2 separate regions of the Homo sapiens genome follow, and region 1 is linked to region 2. The links come from fine-mapping of genetic effects on gene expression. A gene starts in region 2. The other region holds a variant in brackets. All regions are shown on one strand. Distances are between the middles of the regions. Region 1 overlaps AGBL4 (AGBL carboxypeptidase 4). Region 2 holds the start of BEND5 (BEN domain containing 5).

What was found. PIP is the estimated chance that this variant, and not a neighbour inherited with it, causes the effect.
Region 1: its variant is fine-mapped to the expression of BEND5 in whole blood (TOPMed, PIP 0.94).

The regions. Positions count from the first base shown.
Region 1 is chr1:48,751,506-48,761,369 of GRCh38, reverse strand. The region is part of intron 6 of AGBL4 (AGBL carboxypeptidase 4); the gene reads left to right. BEND5 (BEN domain containing 5) reads left to right here. Exons shown (of 6, transcript NM_024603.4): 2 at 1-33; 3 at 2,086-2,470. Among named protein-coding and RNA genes, the nearest start is that of BEND5, 20 kb to the left of the region's middle. The variant G/C (reference allele first, on the strand shown) is at 5,074.
Region 2 is chr1:48,771,013-48,780,876 of GRCh38, reverse strand. It overlaps BEND5 (BEN domain containing 5), which reads left to right and starts at 3,986. Exons shown (of 6, transcript NM_024603.4): 1 at 3,986-4,271. The coding sequence starts at 4,046. All of the region lies in intron 6 of AGBL4 (AGBL carboxypeptidase 4), which reads left to right.

The DNA of each region.
Region 1 (9,864 bases), 20 kb after region 2:
GGGGAAGAAGATTTACAGCTTAGACACATCAAGGTAACAAAATCTTTCCTTTCTTTGGAGGTATGCTGGAGCATTTTCAGATATCTCGTAGCTAAAGAGTTTCAGTCTGGCTTCCTCTCCCCATGTAAATGTCCCCTGGTATCACAGGCTATGATTTTTTCAGGGTAGTGAAAGCGTGGGACAACTCGTGTGTATTTGCCTTGCTGGCCAACTTTCTAGAGAGCCCTGATTCATGCTGTGCCACCAAGCTTGGTCCTGTTTGCACAGTCTGTGCAGTGTCATCGCTGTTGGAGGTTTGGAACGGTGTGTTTCTCCTTGGCCCACAGCTCTGGAGAGGTCACTGCTAAGCTCCAAGAACGTTAAACAGATGTTCTTGGGGAGAAGTTTAGGGCCAGTCACTGTCAGAGTGCCCCAGATAGCTAAGGCTGGACTCATTGGGAAGTGCACGAGGTTCACAGAAGGGATTTGTGAGACCTCGGGTTAGATGAAAACATTTGCATGAGGTTGCATTTTCTTGCTGTGTGCCCCAGTTGGTCTCCAGCCTTCACTTTGGAAACTGCTGAAAATCTTGTTCGGCAAGCTAGCTGTTTTTTTCTGTGCAGTAGATACCTGAGAGGAAGGGAGAAGGACGATAAGGAAGTGGGATGTCTTCTGCATTGACCATGGTCTGATTTTGGTCACAAGGTTGAGGGTGTTCCCAAGGAATGTAGCTGAGTTCAGTTCATGGCATTCATTGTACTCCTGCTATGCGCCTGGCCCTGTGCTCGTACCTGGAACCATTAGCCAGACATGGTCCTTGCCTCCAGGGGTCTCACATTATAGTGACGCAGACATATTGTAACGATCACTTTAGATAAATGATAAATTCATCTACACTAGTAGCACCTTATCTCAGCAGATAAAACGACTTACGATTTTGTCATGTAACACAATATCAGAGTCATGGTTTCATTGGGCTGGGTTTGATTTGGTTTGGTTTTCCTTAAATTTCCTGAAACTTAGAACTGCCTGGAATCTCATGTCCTCAGTTGTCTGCACTTCCTACACATGCCCCAGTCAGGAGAGCTCCTAACCCTCCTGCCCTGAGTGAAGAATTCATTTGATCTTGTAACTCTCACTGCCCCTCAGTAGAAGCTGTAGCTACTTGAGCTAGAATTTCCTTAGGCAGTGGAACCCCAAGCTCTGGAGGGGGTCCTGGATAATTCTCTTGTAAATGAACTTTCTTCTCTCTATCCACTGTCTTGCTGAGGAGAGTCTGGAAGGAGCCTTGTACTGGAAGTTAGATTCCAAATTCTGGTTTTGGCTCTGTTTGTATCTCACTATGTGACCCTAAGTGTAGTCCTTCCCTGAACTCTCTGACCCTCAGTTTTCTCACCTGTAACATGAGGCAGTTAAACTGAAAGTACCTTTCAATGCTAGAATTCTTTGAACTTTTCAGTTGAGTAAACATTTTTCAAGCCCCTACTGAGTGCCAGTTCTGAGTGAGTAGGCAGAGGAGAAACAGAGAAAATAAGACATGTTTTCTGCTCTAGATTAGAGTAGATTAGAGTTTTTAACATCCTTTCCATCTAAAGCATTGTCGATGAAAAGTTTACATGGTGAATTGCCTTTAGGGGAGGAATTTTATGTTTTTGTTGTTGAAGACATTTGTGAGTCCTCTGGGATCACTTGGCCTGGCCTCATTTCTCCCTGATTCTCCACAAATACATATTGAACACCCCCATGAGCAAGCCACTGCCTAGGCATTGTGGGTGGGCTGGGGCCTGGGGAGTTGGGAAGGGTGGTCATGGTATATGCATCCAGGAGGCAGAGTGGTGAAAAGGAAAAAGTGCAGGCCTGGGAAACCAGTGTCCTGGTTATGACTTTGGGCAAGCCCCTTCCCCACTCGGAACCCCATTTATAAAATTTATAAAATGTTTCCCCATTTATAAAATGAAGGGCTTTGACTAAGTGTTTGCACAGGTTTCTCCAAGCACTGATGTTCTGTGATTCTGTGATTTTAGGATTGTCTGGGGAAATATTGATCTGCAGTCCAAGAAAATCCCAGCTGCCCTTGCCTGAACTGATTCTCGTTGTCCTACACAGAGACCTGAGGGGCGGAAGCCGAGCGAAGTGGCGCACAAGAGCATCGAGGCAGTGGTGGCTCGGCTAGAGAAGCAGAACGGCCTGAGCCTGGGCCATAGCACGTGTCCGGAAGAGGTCTTCGTGGAGGCCTCGCCAGGCACAGAGGACATGGACAGTCTAGAAGATGCTGTGGTGCCCCGGGCTCTGTATGAGGAGCTGCTGCGCAACTACCAGCAGCAACAGGAAGAGATGCGCCACCTCCAGCAGGAGCTGGAGCGGACTCGGAGGCAGCTGGTACAACAGGCCAAGAAGCTCAAGGAGTACGGGGCACTTGTGTCTGAAATGAAGGAGCTCCGTGACCTTAACCGGAGGCTCCAGGACGTGCTGCTCCTGCGGCTTGGCAGCGGTGAGTGCCCCAGCAGGTCACCTACCACTCCACTTGGGTGAAATACTTCATGCAGATCCTCTTCCAGGAAGGGAAAGGGGAGAGGGAGACCAAGTGCCCTGAGGCTAGGGAAGGACAGACTCTTGGCTTACCAGTTACCTCAAGGAAGAGTCACTCCCCACTCATAGTGAATCTGGTAGGAGCTTATGTATGCAGCAGCCTCAGCTATGGGAACATTGGCGAACATGGGTCAGAGACTAAGAGCTGACAAAATATTTGTCACTGCTCAGTCCCTTATGCATTCATTCAGCAGGAGGCAGTAACAGGGATCGTAGGGAACCTCTCCAAGGAGGTTTCAGGATAGTAAAAAGAAGTAGACATGATCCTAACAACATGTATTAGTTTAAGTCAGAAAGTGATAAATGCCAAAGGAGAATGCTGACAAAATGATATGAGAATTCAGGGGTTGGAGAGGTTATTTGTAACTGAGGGCATGGAGAGACTTCAGTAAGAAACTGAGCTTTGAAGGTTGGGCAGTGTTTCAAGGCACAAGAGGAGGCTGAGCAGCACTGGTGAGCATGGGCAAATACCTGGAGCACACTAAGAGGAATAATGCAAATGTGCTTTGAGGACAGAAGATGGAAGGACTTGAAAACTTTACCAGCCTGGGATGTCTGGACTTGTTTTGGTAGGAATGGAAAGCATTAGAAAGCTTTGAGCAGGGAGGCACATGACCTTAGGAAGATGAATATAAAGACGTATAAAACTCCTTTGGTTTGCTCATAGAACTTAATAGGTTCTTATATTGCACCCTATTTTAACTAATCAGGTTTTCTGATCTAAAGTGGTTTAGAAGCAGGGATCGAGAAACCTGAAAGGCAGCAGCTTTGACTGCCGGAAGAAATGACTGCTTACCAGAGAGAAAAAGACAGAAAAATGCTTTTAGAATATAAGAATCCAGAACTGTAAAAGATAGAGCCCAGTCAATATTGAGGAAATCGGTATAACACAAGTTCTTTGCCTCCATAGCCCCTGAAGACAGTAATTAATAACTCTGAGTCAGTGTGCTTTGCTTGAAGAAGGTGGTAATCTAGTCTAGAAATATCCCCAAAGTTTAAATAAAATACAATTTTGCCCTTGTGAAGGTTTTCATTATCTAGATAATATATTTAGATATGAAGCTTCATTCTTCTTTGATTTATTCTTACCCTAATTTACTTATATTTGTAGGTGTCATTTGCTTCTTAAAGTATATCCCCAAGGTAGTGGCTCAGTAGATCTTTGGGTGGTCCAAGAAGTCAGCAGAGAGGCCTTTCATGCCCTTGTCATAGAAAAGGAAATGACATTGGGACTTCCCCAGAGTTACTTAGGGAGGCAGAGGTAGAGTTCTGTCTCAACTCTAGTCACTCAATTCATAGGCTGGACTTTGTCCACTCCCCAACTCTACCATTGCCTTGGCCATTGTCCCAAATCATAGTCTACAGAGGTTCACAGTGACACGAAAAGTCGCATATGGTTTGCAACTTCAAAAGTTAGTAAAGTTCTTTATTAAAATAAAATCTCAAAGAGAAATCATAAATGTAAAAATTTGTAAAAGCTGTATTGTTCTTGTAGTGGTGATGGGGGATGGGGATAACTGAAATTTTCAGAGAGAAAAAATGTTTCCCAATCTTAAAGTGAATAATTTGCATTTTCAGTGTGCTTTGTATGCTATGCCTTTTATGAACTTCTTGGGGGCTTGTGGGGAAGTACACCAAAAACAGAAATTCTTGGTACTTAATTCAACTCCCAGGGAAACTACCTGTTTTTCATGATTATGAACTGAGTTTAAACTCTAGAAACCACTCCTAAGCCTCTGGGGTGGTAAGACACCCTGCATTTTACATCATTATATGCCTCTTTTAGTCCTAAAACATGTAGAAAAACTTGACCTGAAGCATAGTTTCAGTGTCTTGATCTTTCTAGGCTCTCCCATCCCACAGGCCTTGAAGGCCATTGCACAGGCCAGTGGCTAGCTCTTCCCTGATCTGAGTCACCATCATCATTACAATGGGTTGGACTCAACATAAATCAACTGGAGCCCCAAGTATGCATAGACCACCCACCCTATCCTCTCAGGGCTACAGGCATCCTGGAAAATCACACCCACTGTCTCTCATCAGTGAAAGCTTAAAAGTCTATTGATTAACACATGTTAATAGGAGGATGCTAATGTGCCAACTTCCAAGACAAATCCGCAAGAATAAAATAAAAGGATCTCTACCCTTAAGAGGAGGTTGTATGTTTTCACGGCTTGGATTCAAATCCCAACTTCCCTACTTCCCAACTCTGTGGCTTTGGGAAGCTCATGTCCTTCTTTCCTTTCTTCCTTCCTTTCCTATGACCTTATTTTCTTCCATGAATACTTGCTGGTCTCCTGCTACATGCCAGGGACCTAGCCTAGTGTAAGAATTCAGTATATTTGCAATACAGCCCTTGCCCTCTGCCCTTGAGGAGTTTAAAGTTTGATGAGGGGAACAGATCCTGAAACAATCAATGACAGCACAGTACATAAATGCCATCATAGGGACAAAACCATAGAGGACTGTGGGACAGCAGAGGGGATTACCCACCAGATTTTGAGG[G/C]GTCAGAGAAGGAAGGCTTCCTGAAGGAAACAACTTTTAGGCTGAAGCCTGAATGATGAATTTTTGTTACCCAAACAGGAATCAGTAGATGGGGAGAGTAAGGAGCAATTTAGGCAAAGAGCATGTATGTCTCTGACCCTCAGTGTTCTCATATGTAAAATGGGAATGATAATATTACAGCCTTGTGACACACCGCATAGTGCCTGACATTCTGTTAATGCTTGATTACTGTTAGCTCCTGTTCAACATCATGTAATGGAGGAGCTAAGACAGGGTTAACTTTGGCTTTTAACTCGGGCACCCCCAGCCAGTAGTTGGCTATATGACCTTGGGCAGGTTAACTAACTTCTCTGCCTCAGTATCCTCTTACAATATTGAAGATAAGAGGGGTTATATATGTTTGTTCATTTGTTTATTCAATCAGTCAGCTAACATTGACCAAATGCTTTCTGAGCCTAGGAACTTAGGGAGATACAAAGAAGATTAAGACATTGGGAAGTAGGGAGAGGGTAGTGATGGAGGTAAACATGTTATTAAAACGCAGAGTGCCAGTTCTGGGAGAGAGATTAGCGTCTGAAGGGAGAAGTCTCTCTTGGAAAGTCTGGTAAGATATCCCCTTGCTGTAACAGATCCTGATCTATAAACACCACTAAGAAGGCAGAGAACAACCAGAAAGCGAATGAGAGACCCTTGTTTGACTCTCGGCTTCAGTTGCCCTCTGAGAAACATGTCCTGGGTTAGGGTTGATGTAGGGCCCAGGCTTTGCCGTTCTCTGCCCCCTGGGCCTCATTTGAGTGTTGCTCCTGGAGGCATATCCTTGAGTATTTTCATTTTTTGTCCACCTCAGCTAGGGGCCTAGCTCAAAGGCCTTTGTCTAGCTTGGGTGCTGGATCATTCACACAAATTCAGAGACGAGGGAGGCCAACAGGTCAGGAGGTGCTCAGTTTTCAAAAGAAATCTACCTGTCTGGAAGAATCATTATTTACTCACCGAGGTAGTGGGGTCCTACGAATGGTAGATGGTAGTGGAGAGCAGCCGCCTGGTCTTTTCAGACTGATGGGGACTCAGAGTGGGAAGCAGGTCCGTCAGCAGCCAGGAGTTGTAATGGCGCACCTTGGAAAGGTTGGGGTCAGAAAGGTGGAGCCACACCCAAGGGTGGGGGATAGCAGCAAGAGAGTATGTTTCAGAGGCTTCACTGAATCGTACACGTCTTCATTTGTACATTTATTCATTCTTTCATTCATTCCACACACAAGAAAAGATGGATTTAACAGGAAGTATTCCAACATGGAGGCATGGAGTTGTGAAAGAACTTAGGCTATAGACTGTCACCGTCATTTTGCTGATGAGGAAACAAGCCCAAAAAGTGTCACTGGCTTATTCCTAAGGGTCTTCTGACCCCTGGTCCTGCGTGCCTCTCTCTAGACCCTCACCCGTATGGCCTTCTTTAGCTCTTAGACTTCATTTTTCCCAACATGGGGGTGTCTCCTCCATCCCCTTTACTCCCCACAAAGGATATCATCTCTCTCTGTAAAACAGAACTTTCCTTGTCTGTGATCTTAGCATGGTAAACAACCCTTTCTGATGGGAAGGAACCTCACTTTCCTCCACTGTCAAAATTAAATAAGGAAGCATATGTAATTTGCATATGTAAACTTTTGCCCCGTGACCCCCATATTGTAAGTGTTCAATAAATGCCAGTCCCCTTTTCCTTTTTCTCCCTTTCCTGCCCCTCCTCCCCCAAATAAGTAAATGCCGAGGATGCAAAAAGCATGGTGACATTCCAATGTACAAGGTACAGATGTTTTTCTATGTATATTCCTTCATTCATTATTTATTTTATTCAGTGAACAGTTATCGAGGGTATCCTTTGTTCCAGGACTGGGTTAGGTGCTGGGAATAACGTAATGAACAAGACAGAGTGCCTTTTTAAAAAACAATGCACAAGTAGATTAGAATGGTGTGTTTAAACCGGGTGTTGGCAGCCACAGAGAATTTTAGGGGATGAAGGGAAGCAGAACAATAGAGACCCAGTTGGGGGAGGGTAAGCCCCCATGTGTGAGAATGGAGTAAATTCTAGGGTCTCTCTTGGTTTCTCCTCAGCTAGATTCCCTGTTCTTAGAAGGCAAAGTCCAAGGCTACGGTGTCCTCCCCAGTTTGTTACACTGTAAGTACCACTTAGACAGTATAATTCATTGTGGTGTGACTCGGGTAACATTAGTTCAAATAAGACTCTCAAGGGCTCTGTGAGGAATACAAAGAGGAGCAGACATAATCCTTGCCTTCAGGATGCACACAAGTCTCACAGGGAACACAAATATGTACGCAGTGTGACACCAGGCAAATAAAATCAGTGCTCTAATTGCAGGAGGGAGGCAGATGATGGTTTTAGATTTTGTGTGTGCTTTGTCAGGGAATATAGGCAAAAATGATGAATTCTAACCAGAAGAGGCATAGATAACTAGAGTAATAACAGTAATTCACATGTGCATGGCATTTTACAGGTTTTAAAGCACCTTGACATTTTTATCTCATTGGACAATTCCGATAGTCTTATTGCAAGCCAGGTAGGGATTATTATCTCCGTTTTAGAGAGGAGAATGCAAAAAGAAGAGAAAATGTCCTGTTGGCTAGATCATAAGCTGGCTGAAAGTTTTGAAAAAGGAGAAAGCCATTGTGGCCTGCATATCTGTTTCAACTTTTTAGAGCTGGATCACTAATACCTCTGTAACCCTCTGGGTTTGTGCCTTGTGTGCTGTCCAAGGTCCGCTAAAATACCAGCTTTGATCTTTAAAATCCTTTGCAGTCTGAACTGGTTTCTTTAAGCCCAGGTCTCTGATGGTGCCTTAGAAAAGGCAGCTGATGTCAGCCAAATGCTTCTTGCTGGTTTTCTCCTGTACTGGAGACAACCTGGGCTTCAGCAACAGATACTACTTGGGTTTGAATCTCAGCTGTCTTAATTTATTACCTGTGTAACTTCATACACATTTGTTTAACCCTTCTCAGGTGTCTGTTTTCTCCTCTAGGTATCTTAAAGCCCACTACATACAGACAGGAGAACCAGCTCAGTGATTAAGAGCCCTAATGGGCTCTGAGGTCAGAAATACTGAGGTTTTCAACCCCAGCTCTTCCAAATTCAAATTTTGTTGCCTCGGGCAAGTTACTTAACTTCCTCAGCCTTAGTTTCCTCATCTGTACAAGAGAGTGAATGATAGTATCAGCTATTATGGTTCTTAAAAGGAGCAAATGGGCCGGGGGCAGTGGCTCACGCCTGTAATCCCAGCACTTTGGGAGGCCGAGGCAGGCGGATCACGAGGTCAAGAGATCGAGACCATCCTGGCCAACATGGTGAAACCCCGCCTCTACTAAAAATACAAAAATTAGCTGGGCATGGGGGCGCGTGCCTGTAGTCCCAGCTACTCAGGAGGCTGAGGCAGGAGAATAGCTTGAACCCGGGAAGCAGAGGTTGCAGTGAGCCAAGATCATGCCACTGCACTCCAGCCTGGCGACAGAGCGAGACTCTGTCCAAAAAAAAAAGGAGTAAATGAATAAATGCAGTAAAGTCATCTGCCTGGAGGCTGGCATATAGTAGGTGCTCAGTAGGTACTGCATCAAGATATAGAATCATTTGAAGATGTGCATGAGAAAATGTGTATATAGCACTTGGCACATCATAGGCACCCATTGTCCTACAGCAGAACACAGATGTGACGGTCTGGGATGTCTTAATCTTTGGTCAACCCTGGATGACACCTAGAGATTTCCTGTTTCCCCTTGTAAGTCCTTAGAAATCATATTTGAACACTCTGTTTTACAACCATGCCTGGACTTGATTTCAAACTCACTGGTCTGTAGCTTATAGAATTTGTCCATTACCACGCCCAACTTTTCCTGGGCAGAATTCCATCTTCCCATCTCTAGCTCTCAACCACCCCATTTGACCTCCTAGATTTTTTTAGACATCACTAGTTGTGGCTCAGTCTTCTCTTTGCCAGGACTCTCTTCTTGGGGCCTGTTTATCTCAGAGCTCTTTCCTGTCTCTTTCAGCCTCAGTTCATTTTCACAATGAGCAGGAGTACTATAAAAAAGTTGGGCTTTGAGAAAGGCCCAAAGCGGGTGGACAAGAGCCATTTTGTCTAGTTAGATGTTTACATCTCCCTTGTGGAGGTAAGGCCTAAGAGGCCCACAGTCTGCCTGCCGGTTTAGAGTTAGTGGTGGGGCAGTTTCAAAAACTGTTGTATCCTGCTTAATTCAGATGGCAGGAAGAGACCTAGTAATAAGAAGTGGAGTAGTTTGTCTGAAAAATATCAGTCATCTTCTACTTTGAAGGACTTTTTTTGAACTGTTGCCCAAATCAGAAGTAGCCACAGTTTAAAATAATCCCAGATTATTTTAAAAGTTGATTTCAGGGTGGCCGAACAATTCAGGACCCTCCTTCCCCTTTCTCCCTAGACTCCGTTTTCCTGGGGGCAGTGGGGATGGGGTTGAGGGACAACTCCAGGCTGTCCCTTTTCTAACAACTGCCTAGGTATTTAGAACATCCAGAGGAAGTTGTTAGGCTTTTCCCCATTGTCAGAATAGCAGTGTGTTTCTCCATTAGAGCAGGGTTTTGCCTTCCATATTGCCATGTGACAAGCTTATGTTTTTTTTGGATTTGCCAGGCAGGAAATGGAGGTGGGAAAGTGTTCATTACAGGCAAAGCCTGGTTTCTAGGAATACCTGCTTTGGGCCAGACACTAAATACTTTCCATATATAAAACAACCTCAGCAGTGGATAAAACAGGCTCAGAG
Region 2 (9,864 bases):
AGTCTTTGCCCATGCCTATGTCCTGAATGGTATTACCTAGGTTTTCTTCTAGAGTTTTTATGGTTTTAGGTCTTACATTTAAGTGTTCAATCCATCTTGAGTTAATTTTTGTATAAGGTGTAAGGAGGGGGTCCAGTTTTAGTTTTGTGCATATGGCTAGCTAGTTTTCCTAACACTATTTATTAAACAGGGAATCCTTTCCCCAATGCTTGTTTTTGTCAGGTTTGTCAAACATCAGATGGTTGTAGATGTGTGGCATTATTTCTGAGGCCTCTGTTCTGTTCCATTGGTCTATATACCTGTTTTGGTACCAGTACTATGCTGTTTTGGCTACTGTAGCCTTCTAGTATGGTTTGAAGTCAGGTAGCATGATGCCTCAGTTTTGTTCTTTTTGCTTAGGATTGTGTTGGCTACATGGGCTCTTTTTTGGTTCCATATGAAATTTAAAGTAGTTTTTTCTAATTCCGTGAAGAAAGTTAATGGTAGCTTGATGGGGATAGCATTGAATCTATAAATTACTTTGGGCAATATGACCATTTTCACAATATTGATTCTTCCTATCCATGAGCATGGAATGTTTTTTCATTTGTTTGTGTCCTATTCTCTCTCATAAGTGGGAGGTGAACAATGAGAACACATAGATACGGGGAGGGGAACATCACATACCGGGGCCTGTAGGGGGGTGGGGGGCTGGGGGACTAGGGGAGGGATAGCATTAGGAGAAATACCTAATGTAGTTGATGAGTTGATGAGTGCAGCAAACCATCATGGCATGTGTATACCTATGTAACAAACCTGCATGTTTTGCACATGTATACCAGAGCTTAAAGTGTAATAATAATAATAATATTAATAATAATAAAGGCCGGGCGCGGTGGCTCACATCTGTAATCCCAGCACATTGGGAGGCCGAGGAGGGTGGATTGCCTGAGGTCAGGAATTTGAGACCAGCCTGACCAACATGGTGAAAACTCGTCTCTACTAAAAATACAAAAATTAGCCAGGCGTGGTGGCGAGCACCTGTAATCCCAGCTACTTGGGAGGCTGAGGCAGGAGAATCGCTTGAACCTGGGAGGTGGAAGTGGCAGTGAGCCGAGACCAGGCCATTGCACTCCAGCCTGGGCAACAAGAGCGAAACTCCGTCTCAAGAAAAAAAAAAAAAAAAAAAAAAAGAGAGGAACAGACTTTCAAGAAAAAATGTGCAAGAGGTTTGTTATTCATGCTCTCTTTATGTCCTTCTTTAATACATTTGTTTTATAAACATTTACTCCCCAGCCCTGTGCTAGGTACCTGGGATGCTAAAGTTACTCAGCCTTTGCCTCCCCTCAAAGAGCTCTTATTCTAGTGAGGGAAGATAAAAAGTGCTGGGACAAAATATTGTAGTAGAAAGAGATAGGCTATCCTTGAAAAGTGTGGGTGGTTGGGAAAGGCTTCACAAAGGCAATGACATTTGAGCTGATTTTCAGGGTAAGTTGAGGAAGGAAGAACTTCCCAGGATGAAGGCAGAAAAAGCACAAAAGCTTGGGACCTGCTAAAACATGCTATCTTTGGAAATGTCAAATAGTTTAGGTGTCTGGAGTGTACTGTGTCTGGGAAGGTAGTAAGAGATGAGATTGGTAATGTTTTGTGGTCACCCCCATTTAGATGCAGAGAGGAGGTTGGCCATTGGCTACTTGAAATCATTTTGGGAACATAGTCCGGAGCTTCAAGGACTTTTGTTAAATACGGCCAACTCTGCATGATCCATCTTGTGAATTATCAGAAGTCTTGCTGCACATTACTTCCCCTTGACCACCATAGGAATGTATTCTTAAAATAAAAACTCACTGAGGATCAGTCCAAAGAAATCATAATCATGACAGTAAATGTGCTGGAACAACTCAGAGTGGCTCCTTTTTTTTCCACAAGCTTGTGGGGCAAGATAAGACCAACAGCTGCATCAGGACAAGTGGTGGTCATTTTTGGCTGTACCACATAACCAGTGGGTTGGTTTAAAAAAATTTGTACTGACCTACACATTTGGATATGAGAGCTATATGTTGATGGGATTCACTTATATAACGCACTGTCTATTTCACAGTGAAATAAATATCTGCCTCATTGTCAGTGCAGCTGATGTGAAATATGAGCACAGTGCTTTGATTTTATAATGTTTGATGTTTTCTGATGATAAAGTAATAAAACATTGTGGAAAATAGTTACATACACACACACACACACAATGAATACAAGGAAAAACAAAATCATCTACCACTACTAAGAAGCTAAAAAAATCACTATTAACATTTTGGTGCACTTATTCTGTTTTTTTCTTACAGCTAAAGTTTATTAAGATGAATTTTTAAAAATATAACATTTAATTGAGTCCAACACCTCCATTAAGCATTCCTCTATGACAATACTTTTCTCATTATACTGTCATTACTTGCTTATACTTCTTTAATACTCCTAGACTAGATTGTAAAGGTTGTGAGGATGGGAAAGGTATGTTATTCATACAGTTACCTAATTTTGGCACAGGAACCCAAAACTGAGATTCAAGTTCTGGTACACTGACTTTGCAAGGCCCAAGAATCCAGGTGTTTATCTTTTCATTTCTATCACCAGCACCTGGCCCAGAATCTGGCAGGTGGTGTAAACTCAGTGAATATTGGTTGCTTGAATAAAGGAATGAATGAACAGATGGATGGATGGTTGGATGGATGGATGGATGGATGGATGGATGGATGGATGGATGGATGTGGGTTTTTATTTATTCTTCTTTACCCAAAATTCATTAACTCCCTGTCAAGTGCCAGGTCTGGCTAGGCAACAGAAATATAACTAGCCATATTTGATACGAGGCATCCCTGTGAAGGTACTGACCTCCTCTGATGTGGGATAGGGTTCCTATGAGTACAGAGCCCAATCAGCCCCCTTTGGCTGGTCCTCACGGCTTGTCTTGGAGGGGACCCAAGCCCCTCCAGGCTCTCTTTGGCAAGAGACAGAGCAAAGACCGCTATTCCATGGAGTACTATTCCTGTACTCTTCAAAGTGCTCCAGAAATCCCTAGCCTTGGGCCTGTGTTACCCAGAGCGCTCCTCAACTCCCTCCGCGATTCCAAGTTGTCCCTGCTCAGTGGTGGGCGTGCTGTGGAGAGGGTATCTCAATGGAGAAAGACTATAGAGGAGAGGGGCGCCACTGCTCCCTCAGATGAGAGCAGCCCTTGACAAACCTTCCACCTCCCCAGCCAGCTGGCACAACTGGAAATCTCAGATAAGCCCCAGTTCTGGTCAGAACTGGTTTGGCAGCTCTAGGGGAAATTTTCTGTCTGACTGACCCTTTCCACAGAGGGAGCTGGCAGTTTTGCAGAACAAAACAAACAAACAAACAAACAAAAAGAAAGAAAGCAAAGAAAAGGCGGGGCCAAACTAAGGGCTGGGAAAGGCGCGGGGAGGGTGCGGGGCTGGGGGCGCGGGTAGGGTGGCTACATTTAAAACACTCCAAACTTCTGCTGGCTTCCAAGTTTACACTTTGAGATTCAATCAAGATTGCCCCCACCCCTATCCCGCATTCACTCACTCATACACTTCTCTACTTGGCAATGCAGTTTTGTTGCAATGCAATTTGGCAGCGCGATTGTTGAAGCAATATAATCCTGCACGCAGCGCACCTTTTAATCAATGCATTTTTTTCCTGCAATGCTCTTGTTATTATTTTTATTGCAACTGAATCTCTGAACCCTTTTCCCTCCCCATTCGAATCGCGCTCCGGCTGTGATTGCTCGGGTCTGACTTTGCAAGTGGCAGTGCGCTTCCAAACCCCCCTCATCCGCCCCTCGTCCCCCTTTCCCCCCCTCCCTCCCTTTTCCGCGCCCAGGCGAAAGCAGCCGATTGGCAGAACGGTGCTTTCAGGAACAATAACAGTGGGGGGAGCCTGGGTCCTGGGGAGCCGCCCCCGCCCCCCCCAGCACCGTAGCGAGACTCGCGCCCCCCGCCGGATCCCCACCTCCGCGCCCGCCCCGCGGGCTGAGCTGCCCGACCGGGGCCCGCCCCCGGCGCCCACCATGTACGCCTTTGTGCGGTTCCTGGAGGACAACGTCTGCTACGCGCTGCCCGTGTCGTGCGTGCGCGACTTCAGCCCCCGCTCGCGGCTGGATTTTGACAACCAGAAGGTGTACGCCGTGTACCGGGGCCCGGAGGAATTGGGCGCCGGGCCCGAGAGCCCCCCGCGCGCCCCCCGCGACTGGGGCGCGCTGTTGCTCCACAAGGCCCAGATCCTGGCGCTGGCAGGTGAGCAAGCGGGCGGGGAGGGACGGTGGGACCCGGGCGGGGGCTGGGACCCCGGGAGGGGCCGGGGGCCCGGGCGGAGGGGACCGGGGGGAGCCACTGCTTGCTCCTTCCTGCCTCCTTCTCCCGTCCTCTGGGCATTTCATTTGGGAACGGGGTGTCTCTAAGAGGCCAGGCCAGTTAAAAAGACCGGATGGTCCCCTTTGTCTTCCCCGCTTCCCCGAAGCTCCCGCGCTGTCAGTCCGTCTTCATCTCTTCATCTGTGTCTGTCCTCCTCTTTCTGATTCTTTGTGTTTTCTTCGTTCCTTCACTTTCCATTTTTCTCCCTACCTGTTTGTACCGTCATTTCTCTCTCACCTTCTCTTTACCTCTCTCCCAGTTCCTTCCCTCTGTTCTTTTCTGTCAAGAATTAAGTTTCTCAAGCTGTCTGTCTCTCTCCCTTTAAAGGCTGTTGGTACCTCCTTGGAGTGAGGAGCAAGAAGGATATTGTCAGATCTTCTAGGTGGGAGTCCCTCCTCACAGAGGGAAGCTATGACATCCTTGTCCCATCCGGGCCAACATTGGACAGGATGAGGAGGCCATGAACCTCAGTGCACTGGGCTCCACACCACACTCTCCTGCCCCTCCCTGGCCAGGTGGCAGAGGTAAGGAGGTAGAGGCCCTAAGGCATCCCTCAGCCTCCACACCCCTTTCTGAATCTCCCAGAAGGCTCCCTGAATGAGAGAGTTGAGGGCCAGGAGAGAGTTTCTGGGTCAGAATAACACTGGACCTCTCATCCCTGCCCTGCCAGGGCCCTGAGAGATGGGCTAAGGCAGCTAGTCTCATCTCCATTTCGTAGATGAGGGTACTGAGGTTCAGTTGGTGATAGGGAAAGAAACCAGCCCTTTATCCTCCTATGCTCCAGTTCTTCCTGCCATGCTGAGACACCTTTTCCTTTGTAAAGAGAAGACAGCTGGCCCTCTTTCCCAGCTAGTTCCAGAAAGTTTGAGTCTAGACAAGCAAGGAAGGGGGAAGTATCATCTCCGTTTTGGGGAGCAGCCTTTTTAGCTCCTGCTGGTAAGGAGAATGAACCTTAAAGTGGGCAAATAGTGTTCCTGCCTTCTACCAGAAAGAACACGAAGGGTTAGTGACTGAATGAAGATGTTTTGTAATTTTGAGACCTTCTCTATTTTTTTCAAGTTCCTTTGCTTCCTCACATTTAGCCTAAAAGATGAACCCAACATTCTCTCAACCCATAGAGACTTGCCCAGGGTCTCATGGCAAGTTAGCTCAGTCTCACAACTCATGTTGCCTCTGAAAAATCGGTTTGCAGAAGTTGAAGAGTGGAAGAACTGGAAACTGACCAGCAGCACTTGGACCCTTTTTGACAGGCTCTATCCATACCACCTCCCTGATAAGCCCTGGCACACCGAAGTGTAGGCCCACCCACTGCCAGACACCTAGGGCCAAAGAAACTGAGGGAGGGGAAGCAGATTTTAGAAAAGGGAACCATTCATAGCTGATTAGGTTTTATTTTGTTTGCTTACTTGCCTTTAATTACCTGAGGGAAAGGATTAGGAATTTATTTCCCAAGACGATAGGCTTGAGGAAGTTATAACTAGGTTGTAACCTTAGCTTCCCTTTTGCTAGAAGAAAATGCATGCATGCTTCTTGACGATTGTATTGTACTCCTAGATCTGGAAGGGTCCTAGGAGAGTAGAAGTGATGTGTTAAAGAGAGTCAGTGATAAGTTTCTTAGTGTGTAATGGCTGTTTTCCTCTCTTGGAGATTGTTTCATTCATCTACTCATTCATTCAGCAAACATACATATACACTGTGCTTGACTCTTCAGGCACTGCAGAGAGGCCACTTAGGCAGATGGCAGCTCCCACCAGCTCTGATTTTGAAATCGACACAAGTCCTCAGAAGCAAGATACATGTAGCTGTTGGTTTGAGAACCATGAATTTTGAACCTGTAGACTGTTCATCCTCCAAGTTAGAATGTTGATAAATCTGTATGGTTATTTAAAAAACCCAAGCATCATTTGGAAACTGGCAGAGTAGGTTCAAAGAAGTGTGCCAGTTTGAATTAGTTGAAAAACACTTCCCCTTACCTCTCTTCAGTTTTTTTCTTGGGAGGAGAAAGGGGAAAAAAAGACAACAACTTGAAGTTGGCCAAACCACATTTTGAATTTTGATCTCCTGGGTACCCACTGCCCTGCATAGAGACCTGATCGAAGGGCCAGGGTGAGTTCGGGAATTCATTACCCTGGAATAACTCCTATGTATCTTCAAACCCCTTCCTGACTTAAACTTGGTGGCTCTGAGAATTGCTTACAGTGACTTCAGAGAGCTCATCTGGCATCTCCTATATGTAAATACCACTGTGCTATGGCACCAGGTGTGAGGAGGAATCCCCTCAAGTGGGAAGCAGAGGTGGCTTTATGTTTGTGGATTAGCTATTAATTGATTAATTAATCTCTCTGACACAAATAGAATGGTTTCCAAGGTAGTTTCAGCACAGCTTTCTGGCTTTTGGTGAGAAGTATGTTGCTATACTGAGTGTTGGCCCAAGCCAGCCCAGAGCTGTCTTGAAGTATACTTCTTTTTATACTCAGGAAATGTCAAAGCCGACTGCTGTGGGACTTTACATTTTACTGCCCATAGTAGGTGGTTTATACCACTACTTATCAAATTACAATCCCAGTTCAAGGAAAAACAAAACTCCTTCTTTCCTGATAGTCTTGCTATATGCCTACACATTATCTCTGTTAGTCCTCTAAGTGACATTTTGGTAGGTATTGCTGTGGTTAGTATTTCCATTTCATAGATGAGGACACCGAAGCTCAGAGACTTGCCTACAGCCACACAGCTAATAAATGGCAAGGCTGGAATTGGAACACAGGTCTTCCAGTGCCAGGCCCCCACTTGGCAGTCTCCTTTGTAAAGTAGCCGATGTTCCCATCAGCTACACAGCATGATTTGGAAGGAGTGAAAGGAAATGGAAAAACTGTCCATGAAGCTTACAGCTCAAGGCAAGTTTTCAAGCCAGAGTATAATTTTAGTTTCTGAGTTTTCAAGCCCATTCTGCTCTTTCTCCATTACCATCCTCCCTCTTACAGAGCACACACAGCTGTCCCCCACCCGCCTATCTCTTCAGTTGGCATTTGCTTGAATAAATCTTCACTAAGGCTGTCCCTCTTGGAGGGTCCACATAACTCAAAGTTTGACTCACCTTTGACCTCTGTTCTCTCTTTACTCTCATTTATTTGCCAAGCAGGTTGTGAAAGTGAGAACTACTCATTTGGAGAGCTCACCATCATCTAACTGCAATCCAGCCTGCTACTGGGGCTCATAGTGTTGAATTTTATTTTTTTTTTAGGAGGCTCAAACTGGTTTCTCTGTGCCTAGAGCCCTAAAATTTTAAGTTGTTCTATCTAGGCACCTGTGCTCTGTTACTGTTGTTTGAGTGTGCTGAATTTTTTTGTTTCAGATGTCTCCTTACTGCTTTCTGTATGCCAGGCCCAGTGCTGTATTAAGTGAATATACCAGTGCACCTATGCATCTCAGGTACTGTGATTGAAATGACAGCACGACCCAGGGGTGGCAGGCGTTGACTTTTCATGTCCTGCTATGTAGGATTTCTGTGGGGGAGGGAGTGATGGAAAAGAAATGGGTATCATCCTCAGGGAGTGTGTAATTTGGGGGCCTCAAAGTAAGTGCTAAATAAAGGTAGAAGCCAGGCACTGGGGAAACACAGAGAATGGACCAATTCAAGGTGGGCTTTGCAGTTTATCTTTTAAGTTTTTCTTTTCCAGCTCCACCATCACTGCCTGCATTCAGGTCAGCATCAGCTCTTATCTAAACTATTGAAGCAGTCTTCTAATTGATTACCATGTCTCTGATCTATTTTCCCAATTGCTTTTAGAATAATCTTCTAAAACACAGTCTTAGTTGACTGCTCTCATTAGAACCTTCTGTAGCTCCCTATTGCCTACTGAAAAAAGTTTTAGTTTCTTAGCCTGGCATTCATAGCCCTCCTTAGACCAGCTCTATCCCAGCCCCACCTTACTTCTCCAGCCTCACTCTCTCTTCCCCTTTCCCTGAGACCTATGGTATTTTTTACTCTTCTGTGAACACACTCTCTCGCACTCCTTTGAGCCAGCCAAGGTGGATTAATCATTGTCTGATATGGGGCCTCTGCCTGCAAGGAGCTCACCTACAGGTGGGGAAGGTAGACATGTGACAGAAGTTTGTGGTCCAGCCCCCCTCCACCTGTGATAAAGGAGTGGACAAAGTACATTTGGAGACCTTGCTTCAGTGGTAGTCCCTATTCCTCCCTCTGCGCCCAAGAGAGACTCTCTCCCTCCTCAGAACTCTCTTTTCACTTTGGTTTTGCCTTGCTTATGGATTGTAGCATTTTATGTCTTGTTTTTATTAGTCATGAATGTGCCTCTCTTCCTGCCTGACAGGGAACTCCTCTAGGACAGGGGCCTGGCTTCCTTGTGCCTGCATCCTCAGTGCCCAGCATATAGTCTGCACTGGTGTGCCCATGTTGAACTCATCAACTTTGGGAAGACAGGTGCATTTTTGTGCTTGAGGAGAGGGAAATAGGGGAGATAGGAACCTCTGCAGCAGCAGCTTGTTTTTCAGAACAGAAACCTGCCGTAGGATTTTAAGTTTTCATTCAACTTTGTTCATCTGGAAGAAGTCAACATTCTTTATCACTCCCTCAACTAGCTAGAAGAAACCCCACACTTGGGGGAAATAGCTTCCAAAGCCATGTTCTTATTGCTTTGGTAATTTTAGCTCATTCAGGGCTCAGGTCCCAGCTTGGCATTGTTAGTCCAAATAGATCATTTGCTCCAGAAATGCTTTGGAACTTCTACAAAGTTAGCAGTGAAGCAGAGGACTAGCCGATTTCATATGCAAAGATTGTTGCGTGTCATCAGTGGGAAACTGCCAACAAAAGGATTTATTTTCTTGAAAAAAGTGAGTGAAAACTTTTAATTTAGGTTTTGACATGTTTTGCTGATATACATTGGAGCAAAGATTGGAAATTGCCTGCTGTCATCTGTTGCGGATTCTACTGGGATGTTAACCATTGAGGGTTCAGTCTAATGTGATTTCTCATGTTCAACAACCACCAATTTTTACAGCTAAATAGTATGTGCTACAGAGTGCTTCAGAGTTCTGGTTCATAAGCAGAAATAAAAAATTGTCCCAGGCAAGTTGCTTTTTATGTGGTGTTTTGCTGTTCAAGAGCACACCAGTTTTTATTTTTAAAAGCACATCCAGAAAGCAGAATTCAGATTGGGGTCTTTGACACCAAGACCAATTCTCTTTCTAGTGTGCCTACCTGCTTTGTCTTATAAGCTCCTTAGGGACAGAAGTTGTGTGTACTCTTTCTACCAGAAGAACATTCGTAATCTGGAGACATTTTCTCTGGTTGATTTAAGTTCCACAAGTATTGAGTTATACTAGGTGGTCAGTCTTATACTCCAGGGAAATGCAGGAAGAGGAATAAGCACTGTGTTTCCCTACCAAATATGTTATAAATACTCACCTGGTTCCAGGTTCAGTGCACATATTCTACATCCTTGTGAGATAGAGATTT